3 separate regions of the Homo sapiens genome follow, and regions 2 and 3 are each linked to region 1. Evidence: fine-mapped expression QTL. A gene starts in region 1. Each other region holds a variant in brackets. All regions are shown on one strand. Distances are between the middles of the regions.

Evidence for each region. PIP is the estimated chance that this variant, and not a neighbour inherited with it, causes the effect. A credible set is the group of variants that fine-mapping cannot tell apart.
Region 2: its variant is the best candidate, but not a certain one, in a credible set for the expression of NPAS3 in breast (GTEx, PIP 0.55).
Region 3: its variant is the best candidate, but not a certain one, in a credible set for the expression of NPAS3 in nasal epithelium (TOPMed, PIP 0.65).

Annotation. Positions count from the first base shown.
Region 1 is chr14:32,935,666-32,944,589 of GRCh38, reverse strand. It overlaps NPAS3 (neuronal PAS domain protein 3), which reads right to left and starts at 5,711. Exons shown (of 12, transcript NM_001164749.2): 1 at 5,224-5,711. The coding sequence starts at 5,273.
Region 2 is chr14:33,096,455-33,107,401 of GRCh38, reverse strand. The region is part of intron 2 of NPAS3 (neuronal PAS domain protein 3); the gene reads right to left. Among named protein-coding and RNA genes, the nearest start is that of NPAS3, 160 kb to the right of the region's middle. The variant G/A (reference allele first, on the strand shown) is at 5,378.
Region 3 is chr14:33,441,316-33,452,262 of GRCh38, reverse strand. The region is part of intron 4 of NPAS3 (neuronal PAS domain protein 3); the gene reads right to left. Among named protein-coding and RNA genes, the nearest start is that of SNORA89, 260 kb to the left of the region's middle. The variant G/C (reference allele first, on the strand shown) is at 5,196.

The DNA.
Region 1 (8,924 bases):
TATTACACTGACCAATGAGGGGGGAAAAAAGGCCACTATTTACTGGGAAAATACTAACATCACCGAATGCAAACAATTGGATTTTCTGATAAATTCTAGTTCTTACTAATCATAGATATATTTAAAGTTTCACATATTCCATTATGTGCAATTTTGATAGCATTTAAAATTTAAAGAATAATATTTAATCAAGTAAAATTTAACATACTAACTTATTTACTAAGTTTCAGCCTTATTCATCCTAAGCAATTAAAGACACGTCTATAAAACACCTGAAGTTAGACTGTAGCCCAAATACAATGCAGAACTTTAAAAAATCAATTAGAATGATTAAATGTTATACGCAGAAAAAGTGACTGTGTAAACATAGCATGGAGGTGGCAGGAGCTACCTCTGCTTTCATGAGTGTTAATTTTCTTTAAATTTAGTGACATTTTGCATAAGACATAGGTTTACTAGAATTGTAGAAAAACAAAAACAGATTAAGGTTACATTAGGGTCATTATTAATAGTAAAGCACTTAAGGAAGTTAGTAGAGGAAAGCATTAAAAGGATTTTGAAACTTTTGTAATATATTCTCCATAAATATCCCCAAATAAAGGCCAGGCACAGTGGCTCACGCCTGTAATCCCAGCACTTTGGGAGGCTGAGGCAGGCAGATCACCTGAGGTCAGGAGTTTGAGACCAGCCTGGCCAACATGGTGAAACCCCTATCTCTACTAAAAATACAAAAATTAGCTGGGCGTATTGGCATGTGCCTGTAGTCCCAGCTATTTGGAAGGCTGAGACAGGAGAATCATTTGAAGGCAGAGGTTGCAGTGAGCTGAGATTGTGCCACTGCACTCCAGCATGCCTGGGCAACAGAGCAAGACTCTGTCTAAAAAAAAAAAAAAAAAGAAAAAGAAAAGAAATAAAGAAACAAAAAAGAAATCCCCAAATATGAAGACCTACTGCTTAAGAAAATAAATAATGCTTCCCCAAAAGTGTTGCTTTACAGAAGCCATAGAAAACCTCACCACAGAGCAGGGGATCCTAGCAGCAGGTCCTACTTCAAACAGACACAATTGTAACATAGCACTGAATCCCAGACCAGGATCTGGGGCAGGGAAGAGGAGTAAGGTGGTTCATAAGTATTCTGGCCTTCTCATAAAATAGCTATATTATAGTATAGGGCCAGCCATTGGGTAGAAGAATTACAGGGGAAGATCAAAATTCATATGACTAAAATTATCAAACTGCTCCAATTTCTGGATTATATTTGAAGTACAGTATAAGTCTTACCAATTGATTGCTGAGATATTAATTACACATCACTTTTAGCCATATTTTTAAGACTATATAAAGACACAGAAACCAAAACCTTACTAATAACACTACTAGGTGAAAACACCTCATGTAACTTTAAAAAAAAAAAAGTATCGAATAATGTTGAATTCAAGTTTGCTCATTTGCTCACTGTAAGGAATCAAATCTAGTGATTGGCATATTGCACATGTGGAGTAGTTATATGTCTTTCAATTCATAAATCAGAAATTGGAAATCTGAAAAGATGTTGTAATGAGGGAGGGTCTTACATAATAAAGGTCATTATAACTCCTGGCTCTGGAGCTATACGATCTAATATCCTCTCTGGTGGATCATGATATGCCCATGCATTACAGTTCTTGTTGACAGTCTGTTGCCTTGGAAATATTTCATTATTTCAGTTTTTCCATTTGTAGACCCTTGGCCTTGTGATATGAAGGCCATCCTATTTCATATTTTCGATTATCATTTAAGCAATCTTGTGGAGCTATTTATATATATAAGCAAGTGTTAGACAATGCATATAATCATTTATCACCCCTATTTAAGCTTATACTGTAGATAGAAATACCTCCAAAAACCAGTCTCCACCACCTTTACTTTTTAAACCAAAAGCCTTGTGCTACTGGGATACGCTTTGCAAATCAGCATGGGCATATCACATGCTTGACACTTCTCTCTGTCTAATTTTTTTGGTTATACATCCACATAGTAGAAAAACTTTGTGGTAGTGCTATATAATTTGCAGTCTATTGGCGTTTAAAGAAAATCAAACAAGTTTATGTACACAAGGTTTTCAACTTGTTCTTTCAGGCTCTAAAGAGACACTTTCTGTATATGTAATTCAGAGAAATGTAAGGAGCACTAAATAGTAACCAAAGACATTATCAAGAACGAGCTTATTTTTCTGAAATTTACATTATAAACATTACTATAAGGAAATGACTTTGGTACTGTATTACTATACACAGGTTAGACATTTCATAAATAAATGAGACAATTCAAAAGATATATTTTTCTCTGTAAGTTTCAGATTACTAATATATTTGAAAAGCAGTAAAGAATAAACTGTCCATAAATGCCTCTGTGAAATCAATGATTTTGAAAACATTTTTTTAAATAAATAGGAGGATACCATTTAAAACATATCCACAGAAAGTCATCTTTTATAAACATATTTGTGTTCAACTGCTACAAGGAAATACTTGTTAACCAACAAGTTCTAGGCACAATGTGCAAATAAAGGTGGAATTACTCACTTACTTGAAGCAAGTATGAAAAACAGCCCCCTCCTAAACAAATCATCTGATTTCCCATTTCTCATTACAAAGCCAAATCAACTTACATGTGTAATGTTTACACTTAAAGTGTTAAGAGCATTTAAAACCCTGACAACAAAGTGAACCCTTGGGGCATAAAACAACTGTTTGGATAAGGGACCAAGTTTGCGGTTGTTGCCTTTTGAAAGGTTTAGTTTATAACTCCTTCCTTCCTATCTTCCACAGTGCTCCTGCCCCCACCCCGCTGTTATTACTCCTCCTTCTCCATACAGGTTAAACCTTCTCAGATCCAACCTTTAAAATGACAGCATCCAAGCTGAACAAGAAGATGCTATTAAAGGGCATTAAATTAAATACAGTATATCCTCCTACAACTTCAATCAGAATTTCAGACCAAGTGTTATTTAGTTCAGCTCTCAAGTGGAGCAGAATAACAAATCGCACACTTTGATTTACCTTCTTCGAATGCCAAATGGAGACAGGTGATAAAGAACGCACTCATGCACAGGCTATGAAGTTTCCCCTAGAAATTAATTCTATCTCCGAGATTCTTATCTCAGAGAAATTCCTAAAATGGCACACGAATAGGCCTTTGCTAGAGAGATTACTGGGGCCATCCCAGTAAACATATTTATTAACAACAGAACTGGGAAGAAGGAAGGAAGGAAGGAAGGAAGGAAGGAAGGAAGGAAGGAGGGAGGGAGGGAGGGAGGGAGGGAGGGAGGGAGGAGGGGAGGGGAAGGAGGGAGGAGGGGAAAGGAGGGAGGAGGGGAAGGGAGGGAGGGAGGAGGGAAGGGGAGGGGAGGGGAGGGGGAAGAAAACCAATTATAAACCTCAGATTTCAAAAAGTATTCATCTTCATGTTAGATAAAAAATAATTTTTAAAATCCTTGCACAATGCTCTGAGAAATTATTTTTTCTACTACAAGAGTAAAGTGTGAATTCTTCATGAAACACTGATACTTCTTAAGAAGTAAATACTCATTTTAGCTGTATGAGTTGTCAGATTTTCTACAGTTTGGGAGCAATAGTTAATGCTATACACATTTAACATCTTTAAAAACTGGATTATGTATGATTTACTCTCTGATATATGATGTTTACAGAATCATCTAGAGTTCAGAATTAGTCAATTATGTATCTACTTAACAAAAGTATTTCCTTAATCCTGACAATTGTGCCTTCCCTATCGTATGAAAGAAATAAGCAACAGTACAATAGAAGCCTTTTAAATGAATGGATGTCTGAATATCCCCTTATCGTCTTCTGATGTAAGCTATAGGTTAAATATTATGTTGCATCAAAAATAAAACTATGTTATAATAATTAAATCTTGCAACTAAGCACATCCTTTGTCTTCTTTTCAAGTTCACTTAAGCCTGTGAGGAAAATCAACGCGCCTGCTGCGGGTGGGGGTGCATATATCTTACTGTATTTGTTTTCCTCATGAATCAGTGGGTGACGTTTCATACTTCCTACTGCGCCTTTCCTCTTCGGAGACAGAAAGAGATATCCACTTTGCTCAAACCAATATGCTATATGCAATTAATGTCATTAACGTTGCCAATTAATAGTAAATAGGATTCCAAAGAAAGTAGGCTGGGTGGACAGCAGGAGGGAAAACCACGTTGGTGGTGATGGGGAGGGGGTGCTGAGTTACTCTGAAAATCTATCAATGCTACTCACGTAGAACAGTTACGGGTATTTTGAACACAAACTCCCTTTCCCTGTGGCTGTACTAGTTTAACTAACTTCAAATAGACATGCTCGACTGAGCCCCTTGCTTGGATATGCAATTCTCACCAGGAACTTTTTAAAACACAGATCCCCAAACAGTAACTAACGGGGCATAGATGCTCCAACTGCTGACACATTTTGGATCTCGCTGTTTGTTTGCTTATTTGGATTTGAGGGTTTTCTTCTTTATTTTTCTTTTTCCTTTGGGAGGGGTATGGAGAGGAGGGGAAGATGAGAGCGGAGGGCAGAGCGGGAGACCCACAAGTTGCCGAGCGGAGGGCGCAGCCCGGGAGGCAGGGAGGCGGCGGCCGCGCTCCTCTGGGCTCGGCCCGGCCTAGCTGCTCGCGCGGAGACGGAGCCGGCCCCTCCGCGACACATTCCGGGCCTGGCGCGAGCTCCGCGCTCCCCGCCCCCGGCCTCCTCCTCCTGCTCCTCGCCTCCTCCCCCTGCTCGCCGCCTTCCCTCCCCCTCCCCAGCCTCATTCCCTTCCTCGAGAGCAGCTGCTAGGGGACCTGCGGCGGCCCCGGGGATCCCCGGCCCCCCACCCTCGCTGCTGCTCCCGTCACACGGCAGCGCCTTCGCATCTGTTTGTTTCTTTTTCTTTTTCTCTTTTCTGTTTCTTTCTTCTTTTTTTTTTTTTTTTTGTCAGTGAGTCACTCTATTCGCCGAGCCGAGGAGGTGCGACTGCTCAGAGAGCCCGGCCGCCGCCAGAGCCTCTCGCTGCCGCAGCCGCCGCGGGGACAATGCGCGGGGCCCCGGGCGAGCGCTGCGCCCAGACGAGGTCCCCGCGGGCTCGCGGCCCAGGAGGCGGGCGGGCTGCGGAGAGGGGCCCTCGGCGGCGGAGGCGGCGGCGGCGGGAGCAGCGGCCCGGCGGCAGGTTCAATAAACAGAAAAGTGTTACCGTTCTCGCCTGGAAGGATCCTGCTGAAAGCTGGGCTTGGTGGGCGCCATCTTCCTGCTATTTTTTTTCCTCTCTTACTTTTTGCCTCTCTCCCCCCTCCCGGGTGGGGGGCGTGGGCGGGCGGGGGTGTGCGTGTGCGTGGGGTGGCGGGAGAGTGCGGCCGTGCGCGGCGCTCTGGGCTGCCCGGCGGGCGGTGGCCGGGGCCGGGGCCGTGGCCGTGGCCGTGGCGGCGGCGGCGGCGGCGGCGGCGGCCGTGCTGCTGAGGTGGGGAGGCTACGGAAAAGTAGTGGGGCCGGAGCCTCGCGGGCGGCCGGCCGTCCCCTCGCGCCGCCGGTGCTCCCAGCCGTGGGTCGCCGCTTCCGCCGCCGCCTGCGCCTTCTCCTCCCGCTGCTCGCCCGGCGCCGCCGCCGTCCATGCGCCGCAGAGCGCCCGCGGCCCGGGCCGCCCCGGCTCCCGAGGCATGCCCGGCGCGGAGACAGGCGACCGGCGGCGGCGGCGGAGGAGGAGGAGGGGGAGGCGGCGGCGGCGGCGGGGGGAGGCGGCCGCGCGGTCCCGCGGGCAGCCCGGCCCAGGGCCCCGCCGCCTCCGGGTTCTCACCCCCGCGCCGCCACCCGCCCCCGCCCCCGTCCCCCGTCACCCCTTTCTACCACCCGGAGCAGCCCGGTGGCAGGTGGGGCGCACACCCTCCCTGCGGGGGGCGCGGGGTCTAGGCCGGGAGGAGCGGGAAGGGGGAGGACACGCGGGGGGTTCCAGCTTGACCGCTGTGAAAGTATTTCTGGGCATTTTCCAGCTGCTTTGCTCCAGAGCGCTCTCTCGTACGCAGACACACACCTCCCCCCCCTTCTCTCTCTCTCTCTCTCTCTCTCTCTCTCTCTCTCTCAATTTCTCTCTCTCTCTCTCTCTCTCTCTTTCTCGTTGGGGGACTGGGAGGCTCGGCTGCCGGCGCAACAACGCCACTCAGTTGCAGTTTCAAACACTTCCCTTCTCTGGAGTATTGCAGCCAGGAGGAAAGAAAGAAACAGAAAAAGGAACTGGGAGGCCACAGGAGCGAGCTGGGGCAGGACACAGTCCCGGGAGCTCCTTGGGGGCAGCGGAAATCAATACGGATGGGGGGTGCGCTGGCCCAAGCAGATGGGCCCAAGAGCCCCGTGGGCGGTGCAGCAGCAGCACAAGCACCTTGTGGCTCTGGCGCTCTCAGCAGCGTTCCCAAAGCCGGAGCATCTGCATCAGTCACGGACGTACAGGAGTGCAGACCCCAGGGTTCACAGGTGAATCCCCGCGCGTTTAAACTCACATACAGAAGCCCCTCCCGACTCGGGTCCCGGGACTTGGGACCGGACTGCCACCCTCTGGGATCTAGCCCAGCCGCACCCCGGTTTGACAGTTCAGCAAGGCCTAGAGAAAGGCTGGCTACTCAGTGCAGGGCCCGGGCTAGAATCCTGTTACCTGGGTAGACCCTGGTCAGAGCGTTTTCTCCACTAAACCAATCAGAAGCGTGTGGACAGCTTTTTACGCAGAGACTTGGGTCAGTCATGTGTCAACCAGGCAAGTAGAAAGGACTCCCAAAGCATTTCCACTTTGAATGAATGAAAGCGCCTGATGGAAAACATCAGTCCTGTGTGAGGTTCTGCATTTGACTTTAAGCTTAAGAAAAAAATAAAGACCTGAAAAGGGGTCCTCCATTCGGTCTCTACGACTCCAGTAAAGTAGGGCTGGGAGTTGGAAACTTCCAAAGGAACACATAAATGTTTTTCGTGGTAGAGGTGTTTAATCTGCATGATGGTGTTTAAGTTCTCTTTGGAGTACACTCTACAGGTAGGAGAGAATGAGAAATGAACTGGAGTGGAGAGTGTTATGGACAAGATATACATGGGCTGGCAGAGAAGGGAAAAAGTTGCCAGTTCAAAGTTTTGGCTCCAGGACACCCAGTCTAGGGGGTTTCTGCCCGAAGATGACAAATGAGAGAAGCTTGTAGTCTCCCAAGAGGCCACTCTTTGCTTGAAAAACCCCCCACTCCTGTCACTCCCGCGGCGGACTCCTCAAAAGTACTTAAAAATAATTTTTTGGTAAAATGATATGTCACCATTCACTTAACAAACAAATCCAGATGGAAACAAATCCAAGCGGAAACTAAGTCTGTCCTTCAGAACCCCACAATCCTGTTGAGGTGCCAGAGGACAGGGGACTCCTGACTCAGACCCTACCTCCAACACCTGCCAATGACCTTGACCTACACGGCTCACTCTCTGCCCCCCTCCCCCTATTTTGACTAAAAGACAGTAACAGGTGTCATCATGTCTTAGTAACAAAATCAAAGAAGGCTACATTTTTCACAGCTATCATCTTCTCTTCTGCCAATATAACATAAAAATCGAAGGAGGGAATAATACACCCCAAAGGCTAAAGTTTAGAGATGCTAGAAAAAAAAAAAAAAAAGCCTTAGTCTTTAGAACTGCAGTGGGATTCAGAGACTTCATAAGGTGCCCAAATTCAAAGTTGAAAGTGGAAAGCACCAGTGCAGCTCTCAGTGCTGAGGTGGCAGACTGTAGGGGACTGCCCCTGGTGCTCCTGCCTTGAGGGAAAATTCTCTCTGAGGTGATCTTTATGGTAAAGGATAACAACACTCAGAGCAAACCTGATGGCAGAAAATTCCTAATCCCCCACCCTTTTATGCCCAATTTATATGGTATAAGTTAGCTCAAGTTCCCGGAGGTCCCTGAAATCTTCCAAAGGCCATCTGACATTTCTGACCCTTGACTCCCTACTTCACAGACCATACTATTGTGACCATTGCCTGCACTTCCTAGTTAAAGTGACCGCCAGATACTATTGTCATTTAAATGTTGTATAAGTGACCAAAAAAACATACCTGAACCATGAAAAGGAAAAATCTAATTCTTTTCTAGTCTTTCATGTTTGAAAGAGTCCCAGATCTTTTGTATTAAAGATTCCTGTAATCACTGAAGTAAAACAAGACTAAAATAATTTAAATCAAAAATCCCTTTGACAAGGAATAGCCCCTTTTTGAGTTATTTTCCAAACTCTTTAAAAAAAAAAAAAAACTTCAGACAGTACACAGAGCATATAATGAAGTCTTCTACAGAATATTTGGAATACTGGACATCAACTTGGAAAACACTCAGTGTGTTATGCAAAATCTGCTCTGGTCACTGGGCCATTGCTTGGAAGGCACAAAATATGGCAGTGATAGATTATCTTAACCTTTTCAGTTTAAATACTGTTGGTTCAAATCAAAGGTTCTCAAATCAATGAAGTTTGAAATACAAGGTAAAAATAGGAACTGTTATTTGAATTATGCATTGTGTATATTTTAAGTTAAATGCCATTGGCAAATCTCTCAGATGTTTAATCATGTGCAATCTGGGAAACACAAATATTTAATTTCACACTTTCATGTGTTCTTTTTTCTTCCATCTTTTATAAAACCAAGCCCCACAAATGGGGAGTTTACCTTTCATAGTACATTGTTAGTTTTTCTCAGCGCATTTTCGTGGATTACATTTTCAGTAAAATCTTGGAACATCAAAAGTTGTCCTTCAGGAAAAACTTCAGGGTTCTAAAGCTGTTGGTAGTGGTAAATTGCTTTCCCTTTCTTTCCTTATTGAATCAAATTACTATTTCAATGTCAAATACGTAATTTTTAAGAAAAATCTATAAATACGTTTAAGAGAACTACAAAT
Region 2 (10,947 bases), 160 kb before region 1:
GGGTAAGGGTTGAAAAACCGCCTGTTGAGTACTATGCTCACTACCCTGCCTGGGTGATGAATTCATTTGTACTCCAAACCTCAGCATCACGCAATATACCTTTGTGACAAAACTTGCACATGTACTCCCTGATTCTAAAATAAAAATTAGGGGAAAAAAGAAAATATATTTTTTTACAGAGCATAAAGCCCCAAAGATCAGACTTAATCTTTGGATTACCTAGCCCTGTGATACCAAGAAAGAAGTCACAAGAACCCAGGATAGAGAGTTCAGCTCAAGAGAAGGGTCTGGTTAAATGCACAGCTGCATCCTGATAAATAGGGAGCACCTACCCAGCAGCCTTTATTCTGAGTGGAAGACACAGAAAAAGTGAGAATACAACAGCCAGTGACACTCAAAGGGAAGCAATAGTCCATGGTCCCCCAACCCAATCCTAAAAGTAAATGCAAGTACAAACAAACCAACACATGCACACACACATACCTGTTTTCAGATGTGTCACTGTAAGATATTCATTATATTCATAGTGTTAAGGGAGAAATCCATCTGTCTAGCAGCATTCAGAATTGAAACACTAGGAAATCATGTGGTGTTCTTGGTTTTATCATAATTTATAGTATGAACCAAGACAAGTTGTTTAGACTTCCCGTGCATCAGTTCTGCGGTAAGTAGATCATTAATATCTGCCTCTTCAAATTATGTTCTGGAAATAAGGTGATCTTTTAAAATTATAGATTATTGTTTCTCATTAGCTTGTACTTAAAGATAACAGCTTTTCTCCTCATTTAAGAGCAGGGCTCCAGTGGAAGACTAAGGTGGTCTCATTCACAACTTTTCAAAAGTTCAACTGATTAGTCAACCACTTTGTTGGGATAATGATTTGCTTCTCCTTTAATTTATCAATGTATTCTGATTCACAAAAAATTTTGATAGCAATTTTGAAAATTTTACTCTAGTCCAGTTTAGGATCAGCTTGACTCACAAACCTGGGATAAACTCAAACTGAATTAAAACAATGGAGAAGGTGGCATTTAATAGCAGGTTAAGTGGAAACAAAGACATCTTTTGAATTGCTGCTACTATATTTGGGACAATACTGAGAGTTAATCCATAAACTAGAGGTAAGAACATACTTCTTTTCTTCTCAAAATAATGTCCATCAGCTTTAGAAATTAAAATTAGTTTATCTTACAAAATAATTTCCAAGATTTTGCAAAAAGGAAGGAAAAGTCTATATTGGATGAATTTGTGGTTTATTAGTATAAAGAAACACATTCCTAAGAATTTGGAGCTTTGATCACAGCAAGGACATAAGGAGGTCATTCAGTCTAGGCCTTCCTATTTCTAAGAAGCACTGCACTTACAGAAAGCTGGTATTCATGTTTGGTTGAGTTTGTTTCATGTAACTATTCCAAAATCACAGTCAAAAGAGTCAATATATCTTTGATATCCAAGCTTCCAGGGAAGAAGCAACAGACATTTCTCCTCATCTAAGCTTCAGTCTTTTAAATAACTCCTGTAGGAATAATTCTGAAAGACATCAGCCATGTCAACCCATCAATCTTATCCATGCCATTACCAGACATTTTTTAACTAAGATTTTTGTTTTTGTTGTTTCAGGAGCATAGTTTTGATCTTTTTTTTTCCTAAATAACGATATATGTTCAATATGTATGCCTGAATTATGAACATAACACCAAATTGTTGCAACTAGCACTAATTTGGGACTGATTAACATTAGCTATTGCCTGGTCCTGTAACACATCTGCATATTTATCTAATACTGCATGACTCATTGTAACAAGGAGTAGTTTTTGCTGTGCTTTAGTAGCCCATGTAATCTAATTTAAAGATTTAGTTAAAACTAGGTAGAGATAACAAATAAGTAGCTGGATATACAGTTTGAAACCTGGAGGTAGGTTGAGAACTGAAAATGATGCTTTGAAGTCATAAATGTAAACTTACAGAAAAAAAGGCAGAAAAGCAGAAAATGCAGATCATAGGAGCAGCCACCATCATAGTAGTTCTTGCTCCATTTCTTACCACATTTATCTTACTCAGTTTTCTCATCTTTAAAATGGAGTGAATAGGTCATACTTCAGGCTTTTTGAAGATAAAGTTTGATGCTCCTTGGAAGAAATATATTAAGTGACAGAGCAAAGCGTCACTTGGTTATATGTTTAATGTGATCATTTGCATAAATAACTACAAATTTGAATCTCAGCATTTAACAAACATGACTATAATCCAATTTGTGTGATGTATGTTTGGTGATTTTTAACCTTTACATCTTTTATACAAACCTATGGATTACTGGAAGCAAATATATATACACACTTCTCCAAGATATAGTAGATGCTTTCCCACATCATGAACCCTCTCCTAGATATATTCCAAAATTCCTATGTTGGCTAGTAAAACCTTCCTTACACATCAGCAACAAACGCAACCCCCATTATCAATGCTGACTTGCTTAGTGAATAGCTGCTTCTTCATAAACTGAACTATGTCTGGAAAGCCAAACAAACCAAACATGAAAATGGGCACCATATTTTTTTAAATCCATACTAAATGCAGAACATACTCAATTGTCTGACAAATTGGTTAAAATTGGTGCCACTAGAATTGAGTCACTGAAGAGTTTATTTCTCTCACTATATTAACTGTGTGATGTAGCAATTGCACCTAATGAACTTAATGTGGCTTACGGCTATGCACTGCTTCCTCTCAGAAACAAAATCTAAATGTTCCCATGTCTGGCCAACTGGCATCCAACACTACGTCAGTACAGGCACACAAGCCACTAATGTTCCATTTTGGCCTCTGGCTAATACACTTTTATTTCACATGTTCTCTGAATGTAAGATGTTTTCACTAAAATGCTCAGTAGTTTTTAAAAATAAAAAGCCACAGAAGAAATTTGTAGTTTCTTTTTGACAAGTTCACTATATATAAAATTTCTACAACTCACTACAGTGTAGTTGAAGAGGATTCTCAGAATTAATCACAAATGTAGTAACTTACGGACTTTTACCCACATGAACTGAAATGAAATCATCCTTTGAAATAGAAGCAGCATGAAAAGAAAATAAGAACAAGACTTTTAAAAATCATGACAACCCTTCAATAAATGTGTGGAATGGTACTAAAGCCATACTGCAATGCTCAACTCTACTTTATACTCAAGGACCTTGTTATAAGTGAAGGTGTTAGAACAAGGTCCTTTTGTTATTTACAGAAATGAACTCAGCACACAGGGAGATGCAATAGTCTACATTATAGTGAGTCTGCAATGTAGCTGATACCCATACAGATTTTTTTTACAGCATTCTGTAGTTCTGCCTTTCTCCTTTCATGTTCCCTATTGAAGCCAGACGCCATAAGCTTTTAGGGGTAAACGTGAGCTCTTTTTGTCAACAGCATATTTAAGATTCTGGAAGTTGTATTTTTCCCCCTTTTCCTTTAATGGTATATCCCTTCCTCCTTTCTGCCACACATGAGCTACCTACCCAGTGCTTTTCTTGCTGCAGCTCTACCCTCACTGAACTCAAAAGGCATGGCCTCTCTTAAAAGAAGCCTAAATCTTATCATTCATATTCCTCCTCTCTGGAAGACACAATCTCCGGACAAAGTCATCCTGTGCTTCTGCACACATATGCTTTAGCTAATCTCTAGGTGAAGCTGTTCCAACACCCTTCATTATTACCCAATCACTCTCAACACAGCCAAAGTGCTGCTCCTCTATGACTGAGTAGCACTGACCTCAAAATAAAAGTTGAAAGTCTAAAGCTGAGGCAATTAAAATTTCACAGTGCAAATAAATCTTGCCAATTGCTCTTTGGCAATATCTTCAAGGACGCTATTTTCTACAACTGGATCATCGCTATAAATGGTACTTAGGACCTTTACCCTCAAGGACACCAAAGCTTGTAAAAGCCTAAATATGTAGAATAAATTCAGCTCAGCAGTAACACCACTTAAGTAAGCCAGAAATAATATACAGAACAGCACATGAAGGTTGATAGTAAGTCTACATGATGCAATGGCAGAGCTTCCATGTCCATTGACTTTCAGGTGAGCTCTTGACACAGACAAGAGGGTGAGGACAGTGGGCTCTGAGACCACCAAAGCTCTTGGGAAAGTAGAAGGGTCAGGGCTTCTACTGACTATGGCCGGTCCCCAGGTGGGAACATCTATTTGTCATGAGAGCCTGGTTTGCAGGACCACTGAATCAGGGCATGCAGAAGTCACACCATATTCCCAATACTTTACCTGAATTTTCATTCACAAAACACATTCCTCATAAGGTATTGGTATGTATACTTTTCTTTTAACTTAAATTCCTTATAAACTTACCACTAGTCACCACCAACTTTAGTAGAAAACCATGCCCATCTGCAAATAAAGGAACCAGACACTTACTAAATGCCTGCAGACTGCTATACTGTAAGGTAATAGTTCTCCATGCAAAAAAACCCTTGTGTTAACACAAATAAAAAAGTGGAGAACTTAAGCAGTTACCTTGGTAAATAAGATTTTTGAGGCAGAACCAGAAACTTCTAAATAATTAAGGTAATTTTCTCTGTTTTGGTTTAAATTGGAGCCTATCTTAGAAAAATCTGTAAGTGCATGACAACTGCTGTCTTCAGCAGCCACTTGTTCACATAGTCAGTGTCTTCCTTCCCCTCTTCCCACTTCCATTCCCATTCCTAGCTATGCTGGCAATAGCAGCTTCATTATATGCCTGCATCCTTCCTATTTCGCTACTCAGGGGTCTCATGATGTTGTCTTAACTCTCTTATTCCTAGGCGGCACTCCAATAAAAATAATACAAACAGTTAACATTTATTGGGCACTTACTATATGCCAGGTACTTCACATGATTATTTACTTAGTCCGGTAAGCAGCTCTATATGAATGAGTTACTATTTTCATCTACCTCTAACAGATGAAGAAGCCAAGGTTCTAAATAGTAAGCAAAGATCTCACAGCCACACAACTAACAAAAGAGCCATGATTTGAACCCAGGTGTTCTATGAGTCAGAAGTCTTAATCACTATGGATATGGTTCTGTGTGGCAAGGCAGTTTTCTCCAAGGCTTCCCCCTTTCTCCCTAGTTTTTCTATTCAAAATCAATCCTTACTTGTGTACTCTGTTCTATCCCTAGCTAATTTTTGCCTACTGTCACGATGGGAACCAACCTCATAAACACATCCACAGTAAAGTCCCAACGGCAGGTGACCATATGAAGAATGAATTGTGGGAGAGGGCAAGACTGGAGAAGGGAAAAAAAGAGGTTGATTCAGGCAAGAGATGATGCTGGCCTAAGCTGGCATGGTAGTGGGAACAGAGGTCTGTGTAGGTCTGAGAAGTACTC[G/A]GGAGGTAGGATCACCAAGGATTACTGCCTGATGCAACATGAGTATGAGAGAAAATGGTGGGGGACAGGAGTTACAAGAATGATGCCTCAGTTTATGGCTTGTAAAACTGGGTGAATAGTGCTGGCCATATACTGAAATAGAAGATAGGGAAGAAAAAACAGGTTTTAGCAGGGAGCTCAAGAGTTCAGCTTAGGAATGGAGGCCGTGGTGAGTGCTGGATCTTCATGTACAACAGGATATTGGATGAGTACCTATGAAAGTCAGGAGAGAGATCTGGGGGCATTAACATAAATTAGGGCATATTAAGCATAATAATGTAAGCTTAGGAATGAATGGTGTTGGCTCAGATCCCATAAATGTAACTCTGGCCCTAATTTTAGACATTTCTTCCACTAAGAGGGTCAACAGACTCCACTGCCAATATGCTTTCTCTACCTGATCAGGGTATCATTCATCTTCCTCTAAGGAGGCAATTACTTTAGGAATATAATTTCTAACAGTACACACAGGTTTAAAGATACAATTTTTAAAAACTTTTTCAATCGCTACATGTACAATCAGCAAACCTGTGCCACCCTTTTCTAGTCAGGGTTTACTACAAGTTATTGTTGTTCATATGTTGCCATCTGAACATATCCTTTGTTTACAATACACCTGCACTCTTTTTTCCCCTAAATTATATATTTTTTAAAGATAAGGATTTATAACTTCCCTTTTTAAATAATATCTGCTAAGAGTCCCAGTAACAACTAGGCATAACTTTTTAAAATTAAAGGGCATTTTTGAATAAGGGAAGAGACTGGAAAAGGTTTAAATTGGCAAACACTCAGAAATGCTCAAGTATTAGATACTGAGGTGTATGTCAGTGTGTGTGCAGGTGTGTGTGGGGGGCAGGGCGGTGATGGTATGTCTGGGGAAATCCATCTAGGGTCTACCTATTTCACAAAGAACTAGTCCCATCCTTCTGAACACTCTGTAACTAGGAACACAGCATTACAATTTATCACCTTACTGATGACCCTTCAAATGTAATAAAGGATCCAGTAAATCAGAATAATTGATAATTCAAGGTCATTTGAAGTTCAGCCTCACATTATAGAATAATGTGAAAAAAACATATTCAGGTAAACATTTACCTTCAAACATAACATATTTCCTCTCTTTGGAAGTAGCCATTTATAAGCAATAGCAGAAATACAATGTAACCAGAAGCCAGAATTTCAGGCTAATGTTGTAGTGTAATTAAAAATAATTCCCACATTTATTAAAACTGACCTAATTGCTCACACTGTAAAACATAGATCAGGGGACAATATGCACTAAAAATAATTTATGTTCCAGAACTTTCACTAATTCAGATTGACATATCTTCCAGGTAACTCATACTAGTGAAGTTTTCCTTTAAGTTAACTACGCAAATTAAATAGCGTTGTATAATTATATTTCTCAATTGATACTGAAAGAGAAAAATAGGTAACAGTTTACCCAAAGTTATATTTTACCCCTTGTAATATAAATGTAGCTACAAATGTCTAAGTAGGCTTTTCTATTATGAATGAAGCAATAGATCCTATTATGTATCAAGTACCTTAAAAAATGATGACTATAGATATCAGTTATCCCCATAGCTCAGAATGCTTCTTTTCTGCAGGTAAAATTAACTCTTAGCAATAAACTCATCATGACAAAAGTTTTTCAAAAAGTGGTTCAATTAATGGGTCAAGAGAAGAACTCTTTCTATCCCAACTTTGTATCTTAATATTCAGCACAAGAAAAACCTACCTTCCCATTAGCTACAATTCAGAATGTTTAAAATTGCCCAATCAGAAGTGATCTAGATAGAGGTTGCTTATAAACAAAGTCATCCCTTTCTTAACTCAGAAAACACTCTTGCAGCCCTGACCACATCAGACCTTTCACAACGACAGAGAAGTGACTTAAACCAGTTCTATAATTTGTAGGGCTACATATAGTTGCCTTGAAATATTTAAAAATTCTTAGCAAATTACTCATAAACCAAGACTTGTTCATTCTTTTTCTATAAAGGACAACAAAATAATGGAAAACTTAAATTTTAGAAATCTAACCATTTCTTTAGTGGATTATTTCTCACCTTATTGTTTCAATTTGGACACCAGTGTTTTCAAATACAAGAATCTGAGAATATAAACCAGGTAAAGGTGTGGCCACTGCTAGTCCTTTCTCTCCCATTTATTAAAATGGTATAAAACCAGCTATTCTTAATGAGATGGGTATATACATAGGTATATAATTTCTAAATATCAGATTCTTTGCATTTTGTTTTTTCCCTACAATAGACTCCCAACTATCCCTTGGATTAGTTTTCTGAACAACTTATATAACTTTATACATCTTTGTACTATACTTTGTCCTCTTCAAGTATATTTCTTGAGCTAATTATAATGTTTAGTTATTTAATATCGAGTAATTCCCTTTAGAGAAGAGTTTACCTTATACAAAGCATGTTCAAACTCTATCACCATTTCCTAGTGCCATTTCTTTCATTCAAACTACATTTTTTTTTCCTTCATTACATTTAATGTAGAATTTTAAAGCAAGGCTTCTGAACCTGAGATTCATAGAGTCCATGGAATGGATCCTCTAGTCCTTGGGCCTCCTGAAATACATGCAGAATTTTGTATGTATGTATGAATACGCAAAGATGGTACCATAGTATTAAGATGTCCATGGCTTTCATGAGATTTTTTAATCTATGTCCTCAAATTTAGTATCAAATGTATGACGGTACTAAAACACTGATTATAATCTTTATACTGGCACCTTTGCTAAAGCTGAGCAGTCACAGGAGAGCCAAGTAGTAGTGGTGCCCATGCTGCCTGCTCAGAAATGAGTGGATTGTCCAGAGCTTTCCTCGGGAAACTGCTATTGTTCTATGTACACCTTGAGGATCTGAGCTGAGTTAGACCTGACCTTGCCTGCCAGGGCTTTGTGTGACTTGGAAAAAGGCCGCAAGGTTCTTTCTCTGGATAGACTCGGCTCCACGGATACAAGGATTGGCTACTGGAACATAGACTAAGTTTCCATTTCCAAAAGCCCCCTCAGTTGAGCACCTTTGTGAAGCACTCAAAGTGCACAACTGGTCTTGGTCTCAGGCAATTTAAAGAATGAATCAAAACTTCAGTTAATAGCAGTTTTCATATCCCACCACTCTTAAGGAAAATGGGAGATCATTGAAATTTATATGGCTTCACTGATTTATTTCTAAATTAGTCTCATTTGAGAGTCAACTTGAGTATACTAAGTTATGTGAAATATGAAAAGTCTAGTTTGATACACTAGTTATACTTTCCTGCCTTTTTCTTTTTAAGAATTGCTTTTGTTCAGACTGTAGAGACCGGAACTTTGGTAGCATTCTTAGATGAGCTTAAAACAGCAATTACAAATAGAGTCTTGAAATTAGTTAGAACTTTGCTAGAATCCATGTTTTCCCACTTTACCAGCTGTGTGACTTCTTTGGGCCTCAGTTTCCTAAAACTGTCATTTTGAGTATTGAAATACATCACTAGGCAAAGTGTCTAGGACAGTACTAGTCTAGCAATAAGTAGGTAATCAATATATGGTATTCACCATTGTCATCATCATTGTTGTCATCATCATCTTTGAATCAGTTAAATGCCTACCATTTATAATTTGACTCTCTACAATCCTATACTAAATCTGAAAAAAATTCTATAAAATACTAAAATTAAAATTTGTATTGGAGGCACACATATGATAACCTAAGTTATGATAGGGCAAAACTACAGTGCTGTGGGAAAAAGATAATGCCAACTCAGCAACTGGAGCTGGATTATTTAGATATCCATAGAGCCCTCAACCTCATGCCATACACAAAATTAATTCTAGATGGAATGCATATCTAAAGGGTTCTAAAAGAAAATATGTGTAAACATCTTCATGATGCTACAGTAGACAATAACTTCTTAAATAGGACACAAATTTCTAAATAGGAAAATATATATAAATTGCACTATATTAAAGTTAAGAGTTTTTTTTCCTCTACAGATACAATTAAATGAGTGAAATGGAAAAATATGAGGAAAGGGAGATTATATTTGTATCTCAAAAGTATAAAAAGATCTGTATCTAAAATATTTGCAGAACTGTAAGTCAAGAAAGCAGATAATAACTCAGTAGAAAAAAATTAGTAAAAAAACACACGAAAAGGTGCTTCACAAAACTAACACTAAGTGGCTCATAAACATTTGAAAATGTTTTCAACCTCACTGGTCATTAGGATATTACAAATTAAAAGCATATTGCAATACACATCCACCAGAATGGCTAAAAATGAACGACAGAAAACAGATCTTGGCAAAGATAAAGAGTTACTGGAATTCTCATATATTGCTGATTGGTACAACCACTTTGGAAAATTGGCATTATCTACAAAAGATAATCATATGCATATCCTAGGACTGAGCAAACTACACATCTACATATATAACCAGCAGAAATGAGTACATGTTACCAAAGAGACATGTACAACAATGTTCATATCTACACTATTGGGAATGCCCAAATGTTCATCAATAATAAAACAGATTAGCTGTGGTATATTCTCAAAATGAAACACTATGCAGTGATGAGACTGAACAAACAACAATGATATACACATAGCTAAATCTTACAATGTCGAGCAAAACAAAAGTCAAACATAAATGATTACATATGATATGATTCTATTATAGGAAGTTCAAGAGTAGATAAAACTAATCTATCTGTGTTCAGAGACAGAATTACACTTTTTTTTTTACCAATTTTTTTGCAGAGATGATGTCTTACCACGTTGCACAGGCTGGTCTCAAATTCCTGGGCTCAGGCGATCCTCCTGCATTGGCCTCTCAAAGTGCTGGGATTACAGGCATGAACCACTACACCTGGTCCAGAATTACTCTTAGAATGGGGGGAAAAAATTGCACAAAGAGTGGCAACAAGAATGTCTTCCATGGTACTGGTGCTGTTTTATTCCTTGATTAAGGTGCTGGCTATAGGCAGGCATTACATTTTTATTTCAAACTGTCAGAAAAGTAGTTAACATAAGTAGTGGGACATTAAACAATTGACAGCAGAGTTTCAGATGACTAAAGTGACATTTAAAATATTACCAAGTAGTGAATCAAACATTAAGATAACAAGTAGAGGAGCCAAATGTAGAGAAGCCGCTGAGGAGATTTCCATAGTCATGAATGACCGTCATAGAAGGTTACTGGAACATTCTGCAGCCATACATACTTGCAGGAACGGAAAGAATTCTTCATCTCAGAAACTGCTTATTTTAACATTGCCAGACTACGGATATAAGCTCATGATAACTAGAAGCAAAATAATTTAATCATAGAAACACACATTGCCTATTTAGTTCAATTTTATTACTCCCCATACAAGGAAATTGAGGCACAGAGAGACTAAGTGACTTGTACAAGGTCACAGATTTGACTGACAAACCCTGAGTTAACAGTCCAATACTAAACCTGTTCCCAATTCTCTCTAAACACATTGCCTCTCTTTAGTGTCCAAAAAATAG
Region 3 (10,947 bases), 510 kb before region 1:
CATGTAGGTTCAACCTCCTTTAACAATGCCCAGCCCCATCCGAGAGTCCACAACCAGGAGCCTGGGTGGTCTAAGTAGCTTTCAGTTCCTTCATTGCCTGAATGCACTTGTTCACAAGGCCACTTAAAATTAAACCAATATAGATTTTGACTCCAGCTTCAGCCAGGTTCTGGGATAAGAGGGCATCAACATTAACATGATGAGACAAATTGCTTTTGTAACACATTCTCAACCATTCTTTTTCTAAGAACCATAGATTTTAATATCATTATGAATTTGATGTAGAGGCTGTTAGCAGACTTCAGCAAAACACAGCACCTGAAATCAAAGCCCATACATACCCTGCCTGTGGTTATAAATGATACTTGTATGGATACTCAGAACAGTCTTTTTATAGGAAAGGAAGATTTTATTCAACAGTTTAAGAATCTTGCTATAGAACTTCTATTTCTTACTGTTTATAATTCTGAGTAGCCTTAAGGAGACTTACATCCTTTCTCTACTCCTTAATTTCTCCTTAGATGAAAATGGGCACAAGAAAATGTGCAAAGATAACAGGCCCAAGATTTACAGTGCTTGTAAATCCATGAAAGTGAAATGAACCTAAAGAAACCATAACAATGAACCGTATTGTCATAGCATACATTTTTAATATTTGTTATACATGTTAAAAGCATTTTAAAACTTATAAAGTGTCTATCATAGCTTATTTCAATGTATGAAAATGATCGAGAGAGAGGAAAATAAATAGTAACAGTTTCTGGACACCAAGAATGGGCAACGCACTTCAGGGTATTATTTCACTTCACCTGCAATAATTCTGTGCTGTCAGTTCTATTACTGTCAACATTCTACAAATAGCAGGACTGAGGTCCACAGGCTTTGCCAAGGTCACATGACTCAGAAGTGGAGAAGGCTCAGATTTAAACTTTACTAAAAGTGCCTAGAGACTTTGAACTCAAGAACCTACTTTTTAACCACTGTACCGTATTGTTTAACATAAGGGGAAATATGGGGGCAGGCAGAGCAAATAAGGAGGCACAGCTGTATCAATTGATGATTTGGGGCAAGTAATTTTGTATTCTACAAATATTTATTAGGCATGTATTTTTTATGTGCCAGAGACTAGAAAAGGTACTGAAAACACAGAGATAAAATATCTTGGATCTCAAGGATCTCCAAGTCTAGCTGGAACGATAAACAATTTGATCCACAATAATAGAGTAAGACTACACAACTTAAGGTTGTAGCCATTTTCAGCGTTTGTTAGGAAACGATCTAATACCATTATTTCAAATTGTAAAAAGACTTATGACAGTTACAGAGCTCCTATAGACATTAAAGCATATTTGTCTCATGAAAAAATAATATTTTGAGTTTTTATGTAGTAAAAAAGAACTCTAGGTCCAGTAATGCCTGGCAACCATGACAATCAATAATTACCAATAACATCTAGTTGTATTTGGGGATATTTGTAAACAATAGATGAAGAGAGTCGAGTAAAACCAACAGCAATTAAAATATGTATTGAAAACTTCTCTCTCCAATTCACACAGATTCAGATTTAGAAAAACAGCAAACAATAAAATATCATGGCCAACTCTAACATACAGTACAACTCAAACTACAAGCAATCTGGCAGCGAAATAACAACAGTATTTAAGGAAAGATTCCATGAAGAAATAAAGTGCCAGAAATTTAACTGAAAAATTGAGAACATATTATTCCACATATCATCTAGACTCAGATGTTTTTTTCAGGATCTATCTCATTTCATGAATAACACAGGAATTAAAAAAATAGTTTGGGAGACTAGACACCAAAGAGCTGTTATTTGTAGGTGCTACGATTATGGATTATGAGTCACTTTGCTTTTCTTTGTGTTTCTGTAGTCTACGCTTCTGCAATGAATACAGATTGCTTTTATAATCATATGGCTTTTTTCTTTTCCGATGACTGCAGATGCATCAGCAGAACCTACCACACGGCACCTACTGCGGCTCAGTTTTGCTGTAGAACCGAGAAACATCACGTTAGATGCTTTAGCAACAACAATGTATATGTTGCATAAAGAAAAGTGTCCCAGAAGAGCAGCCAGCTGTCCTTTACATGAAATTGTGGCACTGCCTGTAAGAAGTATATCCAATGAGAACTTGTCCTCACCATGTAATACTTTTAATGGGTGAGCCATTTCAACACTTTACATACTGCCGAGTAAGTTTCTACAGAACTTTCTCATTGTACTCAGCGCTGTCTGTGCAGTTAATTTAGGCATCAGAAAACTCAGTTGTTAATTTTCTGACTTGCCTCTGGACTCTTAAATGCTATTGCTCCAATCATAACACGTCGGAACACTTACGCAGATTTCAACAATAATATCCACAGCTGGGAATAAATCAAAGCAGTTTTATCACTGATTAAGTGCTATTGAAATATGGTTACAAGACAACATGAAGCAAAGGACAGATTTCACTTAGGAAGATTAAGACAGAGCCTGGGGGGGAATAAAAGAGGGTAATCCAAACAAAGTCTATGCAACATTTAAAAAATATAATTCAGAGTCAGAATGCAGATTGCATTTTTTAGCCATTTAAATTCTCAGTTTCTTCTCTGTGTGTGTGTGTGTGTGTGCATGTGTGTGCATGTATATGTGTGTGTGGGTGTCTGTGTATTTATGCTATAAAGTGGTTCAATCATATAAGATGAATTTAGGCACAGCTGTTTTTCAAGCTAAAGTGTCTTCATACTAAGGGGTCAAAAAAACGCTTTCTGTAAAGGGCTAGAATGTAAATATTTTAGGCTTTGCAGGGCATACATCCTCCGTTGCAACTACTCAGTTCAGCTGTGGTAGTGTGAAAGCAGCCATGACAACACATAAATTAATTGGTGTGGCTGTATGCCAAAAAAATTTACTTATAAAAACAGGCAGAGGGCTGGATTTGGCCCCTGGGATGTAGTCCACTTACTTTTGTACTAAGATAGAGGTTATTCCATCTACCCAGATAACTCCTAAAATATGAGGATGGAGTTGGGGAAGACATGTAGGACTCAACATACTCAGTCATCCTAAGCCTCTGCCTTATCACTCGGGTGAATGTGCACTCTGTCCAGAACTCCTGCAGTCTCTTTTCGGTGGACATACAGCAGACAATGTCACCTCTACCTGCTCCCTTGAGGCCTATGCGGTTGGGGTGTTTAACTCTCCTTGAGTGTCTGCCCAGAGATTCTTTTTGAAAAATCCCTTCTCCTCCTTTATTTCCTCCTCCTTTAAGTGCCCTTCCATTTCCATTGCTAATTATTTTTGGCCACAGACATATCAGGGTTTCCTCTTTATTATCAGATCGTTTGGGGTTTCTCTTGGACCTGGCTGGCATCTGGTGCAGACAGATTTTGGCCTGCTCACTCAGGCTGGGCTGACCAAGCCAGTTCAGATGCTTGTATGCTGCTATTTTTCATTCACATCTGTACGGACATTTGGAAGAGGGACAGCAGTTTTCGGCAACGTTTCATCCTTGTCTCAGGGGCACTTTGATATTTTCATCGTGGATCCAGATGATGGCAGAGAGATGTTCCTCATTATGATAAAGACCACCAAAATTTAGGTGCAAATGAAGTTCTTCCTTGCAAGATAATCTCAGAATTTAAAGTAATCTTGCCAAATAGGAACAATGATCATCAGAAACATCATTAAATTGGTAAGGACAACCACAGCGCTATGTATCAAGCACAGTTCATGGAATAAAGTAAGATGCAAAATGTATGCTATCAACACCTAGATGGGCCCTCAGCACCACTTTGCCCTCAGCGACCCTTCCGCATGGAGCTCACGAGCTTCTTTTGCAGTTGCCATTTCCAATCTTCACTACTCTCTTCAAGATTCCTATTCTATCTTTGGACTGTCTTTTAGAGAGATGAAATCTGTTATCCCCTTAAATTATGGAGTTCCCTAGGATTCTGGGCCCTGAATTTTCTTCTTTTAAAACTTTATATGTTCTTCTTAGAGGATCTCATCCAAGTGCATGACTTTTACTACAACCTACACAAATTCAAATGATGTTCAAATCTGTATCTCTAAGCCTCCTAAGTTTCAACCCTAATCAGTCCCATCTTTAACATATGTCTTAAAAGCACTTCAAATTTTTTATCTGTCCAATCGAATTAATAATCTTCTCCATCCCTCCTCCTACATAATTCATACTTATCATTATCACTATCTACCCAAATATTCTGGCCAGACGTGCTGGAGGCTAACTGTTCCCTCTGCCACACATGTAGAGACTCAGTCTCCAAATCCAATCTCTCCTACTTTCTAAATGTCACTTAATCCTTCTGTTTTTGTTTTTTTTAAGAGATAGGGTCTCACTTTTTCATCCAGGCTAGAGTACAGTGGCACAATCATAGCTCACTCTAACCTTGAACTCCTGGGCTTAAGCAATCCTCCTGCCTTAGCCTTCTGAGTAGCTCATACTATAGGTGTGTGCCACTATGCCTGGCTAATTTTCTTTATATTTTGTAGAGACAAGATCTCACTGTGTTGCCCAGGCTGGCTTGAAACCCCTGGATTCAAATAATCTTCCTGCCTCAGCCTCCCACAGCACTGGCATTACAGGTATGTGCCACTTTGCCCAGCCAATTCTGTTCTCACCCCTGCTGCTACCTTAGTTTTAGGCCCTCACTATTTTCTCTTCTTTCCATAGTGGTCACACTACTCCTAATATCGAAATCCTCTTTCATGTTATAGTTGCATGTCTAAATTTAAAAACTCACTGCTTAGAATAAAATTGTCAAACATCTTAGCATACCATTTGAGGTCCAATATCATTTCATGTTATGCCGGCACTCTTCTCCCTACCTCCTACAAATGCGTGCGTGCGCCCACACACACACTCACAGCACACGCACACTCTCATAGCACACACACAAAATCTAAACTATAGCCAGGTTGTACAACATGCTCTTCTGTGTTTCTGTGCCTTTGCACATTTCTTGCATTTAGAATTCTCTCATTCATGTGACATCTTACCCACCCATAAAAACTTAGCTTACAAGTACTATCCTCTGCAAAGACTCTCTGAACTTCTACCACCAAGCTAAGATAGTCCTTTAGGCCCCAACGGCCTTTTGCATATGCCCATGTGATAGCACTCAGCACAATGGATTGCTATTACAGGTCTATCTCTCTCTCCACAGATTGT[G/C]AGCTTCTTTAGATGAAGACACCTGCTTAGCTCATAAGTATATCCCACCATTCAGAATAGCATCTCGTGCATATTGCTATTTGGTAAATATTTGTAAGATGCATTATGCAATAGGTAGCTACATACAAACGTAGTTGTATTAGTTAATGAGCCTGCTGTAAGATTCAAACATAGTATTTCACCTCAAATCAACATATTAGAAAACACTAGGTAGCATAGAAAATATTATCTCATTTTGCAGCATTGGTCAGATCATACATGAATATACTTAATAGATTTTGTTCTCTGTAACTAATGCTATAGAAAACATGAATACAACTGACAGAAAGTCATAAAGATTTTATAAAATAAATCCTATAAGACATTAGGCAATAGAATAGAATTACGCAGTTAAAAAGAAAGAAAGAAAAGAAAAAGACCAAGGATGATTCAATGGAAACTCCTGAGCCATCTCAAGAATTTTCTGCTGAGACTGCTAACAAGTTTTTCTCCATCTCTTCCGAGGGAGGAATGAGATACAACTATCTAGTAAAGAACATGAAAGAATTTCAGGAATATCTATGTATCCTCTTGCTTATTAGAAAGCATGAAGTGGCCGGGCGCGGTGGCTCACGCCTGTAATCCCAGCACTTTGGGAGGCCGAGGCGGGTGGATCATGAGGTCAGGAGATCGAGACCATCCTGGCTAACAAGGTGAAACCCCGTCTCTACTAAAAATACAAAAAATTAGCCGGGCGCGGTGGCGGGCGCCTGTAGTCCCAGCTACTCGGGAGGCTGAGGCAGGAGAATGGCGTGAACCCGGGAAGCGGAGCTTGCAGTGAGCCGAGATTGCGCCACTGCAGTCCGCAGTCCGGCCTGGGCGACAGAGCGAGACTCCGTCTCAAAAAAAAAAAAAAAAAAAAGAAAGCATGAAGTGTCCCTAGAGAAGATGGAAAAAATAATCCAAGATGAAAACTGGAAGAAAAGATTTCAGTGGGGTTGATGTTGACTCAAACGGAACATCAGAAGATTAGAGAATTGAAGCTATCATTGAGGAAAAAGATAAGAGAAAACTAGATTTCACTAAAGCCACAAAAACTGTAAATGGCACTGACCATAGCAGTTAAATTTGGATCTTCTGAAAAAAAAAAAAAAAAGTGCAACACTCCTTACCCAAAGAAGAGGCACAGGCCTCAGCCCAGGGAGGTCCCTGTGTACCCTCCAGAGAAAGAAGGTTGGTGGGTCAGCTGGTGACTGTCTCCTAAACAATGGGTTGGTTATTCAACATGGGTAACCAAGAAGTTCATTCTTGCTTAAAATGATATGCCACTGAACCTGCAAATTCCTATTCAAGTAGGTTGACTTGAAGAGAGAATAAATGGTAGTTATAGAAAATGTTCCAAATTGTCTCTTGAAGATTTAAAGCTCTGGGTCTGAAACTGAAGGCCTTGGGGAAATATCTTCATCCTTGAGGTTATGGCTTGGTATGAGAAAGCTGGTCAAGAGAATAGTGTCAACATATTTTTTGTTATTGGAAATGTTTTTTCAATTGTATAACAGAGTTATATTTCACTCATCTGGCTCAAGATAGAGAAATTATTCTAAAGATCAGGAAATGTGTATGTGAGATATAAAAATATTTCAAAGAGAAATTGGAGGCACATGTCAGAGTTGGGGTGAAACAGGTAAAATTCTACAGGAGAATAGCTGTAGTAGAAGACAGTGAGTTTCACAAAGACGGAATGATAACAGAGGTTTTGCTACGAATACTTAGTTTTTGAAGTACATATAGTAATATGTAAAATGTTGACAATAAAACAAAATGAACTTAAATATTAGCATAAAGGAGAATAATAGAAATTTTTTTAACACAAAGGAATAAGCAGTATACACCTCAACTCAGAGCGATGTGACTCATGCATGGAGAACAATGACAGAGGGTGTGTATTGATCAAAATAAATACAATTAACCAAGTGCCGAAGAATAGTACAGTCTGTTGTGAACAAACACAAACAATGTAAACAACCTGAGGAGAAAATAATCCTAGAAGGTGGGAACACAATGGAGAATATTTTGGTTTAAATAAAAAATACTTAAGTTGCTGTGAGAGAAGATCATAGCATGGTGGATAAGAAGGATGATTTCCGAAAGCAGATAATTAAATTGGGTAGCAGAATGATAAGATGATGATGAGGGAACCTCAAGCATTAGACTATCTGTTGGGAGTAACATTCGGGCAAAAGCAGAGCATCTGATAAATTCCTGCCTTACAGGCAGTTTCAACTTTTAGAAGGAAAAAGGGGAATGTGAATAGATGTGCACTGATTTTCATAGCATTTCCTTAGATCTCTTTTAAACAAGATATAAATATATAAAGCATAAAAATCATGTGATCTCAGGGTTGGAGGAATCGTGAACACTACCCAGGCCGATCCACATGGACTCCATCTAACCCGACTCTGCCATGGGATAGCCCCAGTAGTCCTTGGACCCTCCAGTGACGCTGGTCAGGAAATGGGTCATTCCATGTTTCACCAGTTTAGACCAAGATGTCTTTATAATGACATTAAAATTTGCTTAGTTACTGGCCTTAATTCAAATTTCTCTGAATCTGCAGACTCAAACTAACTCTTCTACCTCAACTCAATGTCTCTCAAATGTTCGAAGACAGTTACTTTGTTTGCACAAACTTTCTTTTCCCCAGGCTTAACAACCCCATGTCATCCCGTCACTGCTCACATGACTTGTTTGGCAAGTTTTCACCCCCTGCTTGTTCTCTTCTGGACAAAAAGAGGAAGGAACATGGAGGAGGTATAGACAAGAACCTTAAACAAAGTTGTAACACTGCAACTGTGGTCATCATCATAAAGAAAGAAAAGGCTGGGTATCCTCAGTCCCACGCCCTGAGTTTTAGGCATACAGATTCTTAATGCATAGTGAACAGACAGACATAATTCCATGACTAGGGATTCTAAATCGAATGTCTCTCAAGGTGACTTGAAGATTCCAAAAGACAAAGTGTAAATTTCTTCTACTAAAATGGAAAAAAATACAAATGTACCAAATTAAATAGTTCAAGTTCCATGATGTAGGCAAGCCATAATCAAAAGATCCAGTACCACAGTGGGTGCTTTTAATTTTATGTTGCCTCAGCATCTATTTTCACATAAAAGGTTAACTTTCTCATACCAGAAGCAGGTCTCAGTCACCCTTGACACAGTTTCCAACATTATACCCTACCCGAATGGCTCCAGCTGGTGACCAGAGATAAAACTCAGAGGCATCTCTTCCACCTAGCAGGCTGGGCTCCCCACTTTCCTGCCACTTCCTGTAAATGGACCATTCAGACATTTGCCTGCAAACTTAAAGTGACTCCTTCTCAGTCACAGCGTGACCTCCTGGAACTAGTGGCTGCTGCTTTAAACCCTGCAATTAAAGCTCCCCTGCAGGAAATCTGTTTGGATAATGCCCTGGAGTCAATAAAGCCTTTGGCCCACTGGTCCCCTCTCTGCCTGGGCTCCTTAGCGTGTGTGGAGGGGGTGAGCACCTCCAGGCATGTCATGTATCTTCCAGGACAAGATCCATGCAACTGGATTCCCTACTGGTGCTCTTTTGTTTGAGCCTCTCAGCTGCTGGGGACAGTAGTTACCAGCTAAACTAATAGAATTTCATTCAATACATAAAGTTAGCAATCTTTGGAACATTTTATTAAATATGAAATTAAGAAAACTCTGTAAAAGAAACCAGTGATCACTGGGAGGCAGCAAGCATGCATTACAAATCTTGGTGAATTAACTTTTTTTTTTTTCCTTTTTTAACAGAGTTTCTAGATATATAGTCAAATTTTCCCTTTAAGTATAATGATGTTTTTAGCAGCATATTCGATAGACTTGAAATTGAGGAAAATGTGGAAGACAAAATATAGTTAAATGGAGTAATAACTATGAACAATGCAATAATAACTTGAGTAAAGGAATTCAGTGTTAACTGAGGGAAGCTGGTCAATCTGTAAAGGGCTCTCTCTTCTACTGATTTGCTCTGTAATTATCCTGAATCATTCCACATTTTAAACAATGTTTTCATAAAGACATTTCATACAGATAAAATGTATTTGAGAGAGAGAACTCAGGTAAGGGTAAATTATCAAATTATCAAGATTCAACCTTACCTCTTTAAGTAAACAAGGTTCAGAAAACATTAAACTTAGAGGCAGCAGAACTAAATGTCAAGTCTTAACTGACGCTAACAAATCATTTCCTTAAATACAAGATGGGGAAAACCTGGTGTATTCGTTTGTTCTCATGCTGCTAATAAGGACATACCTGAGACTGCATAATTTATAAAATAAAGATGTTTAATTGACTCACAGTTCAGTATGGCTGGGGAGGCCTCAGGAAACTTACAATCATGGCACAATGGGAAGCAAACAAGTCCTTCTTCACATGGCGGCAGCAAGGAGAAGACAGAGCCAAGTGAAGGGCGAAGCCCCTTACAAAAGCATCAGATCTCATGAGAACTTACTATCATGAGGATAGCATGGGGGAACCACCCTCATGATTCAATTACCTCCCACAACACATGCGGATTATGGGAACTACAATTCAATATGAGATTTGGGACACAGCCAAACCGTATCACCTGGCTTAACTGTAGTTTTTTAATTTTTTTTTTTTTTTAAGACAGGAACTTGCTCTGTTGCCCAGGCTGGATTCCAACCCCTGGGCTCACGCAATCCTCCCTCCTCCCACCTCAGTCTCCTGAGTAGGTGAGGCTGCAGGCAGGCACCACCATGTTCAGTTGACTGTCATTCTTATGACTGAGATCTGGAACTTTAGTTCACCAAAAGTTAGACAAATAAACAGTGAAGTGGCTGCTAAATAGCTAGTATCATTTTTAAGCCATGTTAATACAAGTATAATTTTTAGATCAAGGATTTAGTCCTCCCCCCAGTCTTCACCCTACTGAGACCACATAAGAATATTGGTACACTGAGTATGAAGTAGTACATCGAGAAATCTGCAAACTATGTCATACGAGGAATCATGAAATAATTAAGGGAGAAATTGTAGAAGAGAGCTGATATGGTTTGGCTGTGTCCCCACCAAAATCTCATCTTAAATTGTAGCTTTCGTGATTCCCACATGTCATGGGAGGAACCTGGGGGGAGGTAATTGAATCATGGGGGAGGGTCTTTCCCATGTTGTTCTTGAGTAAGTCTCATGAGATGTGATGGTTTTATAAAGGGGAGTTTCCCTGCACTGGTGCTCTTACCTGCCACCATGTAAGACGTGCCTTTGCTTCTCCTTTGCCCTCAGCCATGATTGTGAGGCCTCCCCAGCCACGTGAAACTGTGAATCCATTAAATGTATTTCCTTTATAAATTATCCAGTCTCGGATATGTCTTTATTAGCAGCATCAGAACAGACTAATACAAGAACTCTTAGAAATAAAAGAGATTCAGAAGTCAAAACCGGAATCAAAAAGTGAAAAATATAAAGAAGACAGTTTTTAAAATGCGAATAGTACAATAATAGGATGGGCTGCCTTCAAAGGGAACAAGTTTGCTATCACTGGAAATATTCAAACAGCAGTTGGATGATTTTGATCAATAAGATTTCCAAGGGATTCTGCTATTGAAAAGTAATGTTAACTGGATAATCTGAAATTTTATCTGCACTCTAAGATTCTTTTATCTTTTTTTTCTACTTTAGGCTATTGCTTTGAAATTAGAATATACATGGATTATTGACTAAAACGTTTGGATAAGGAATGT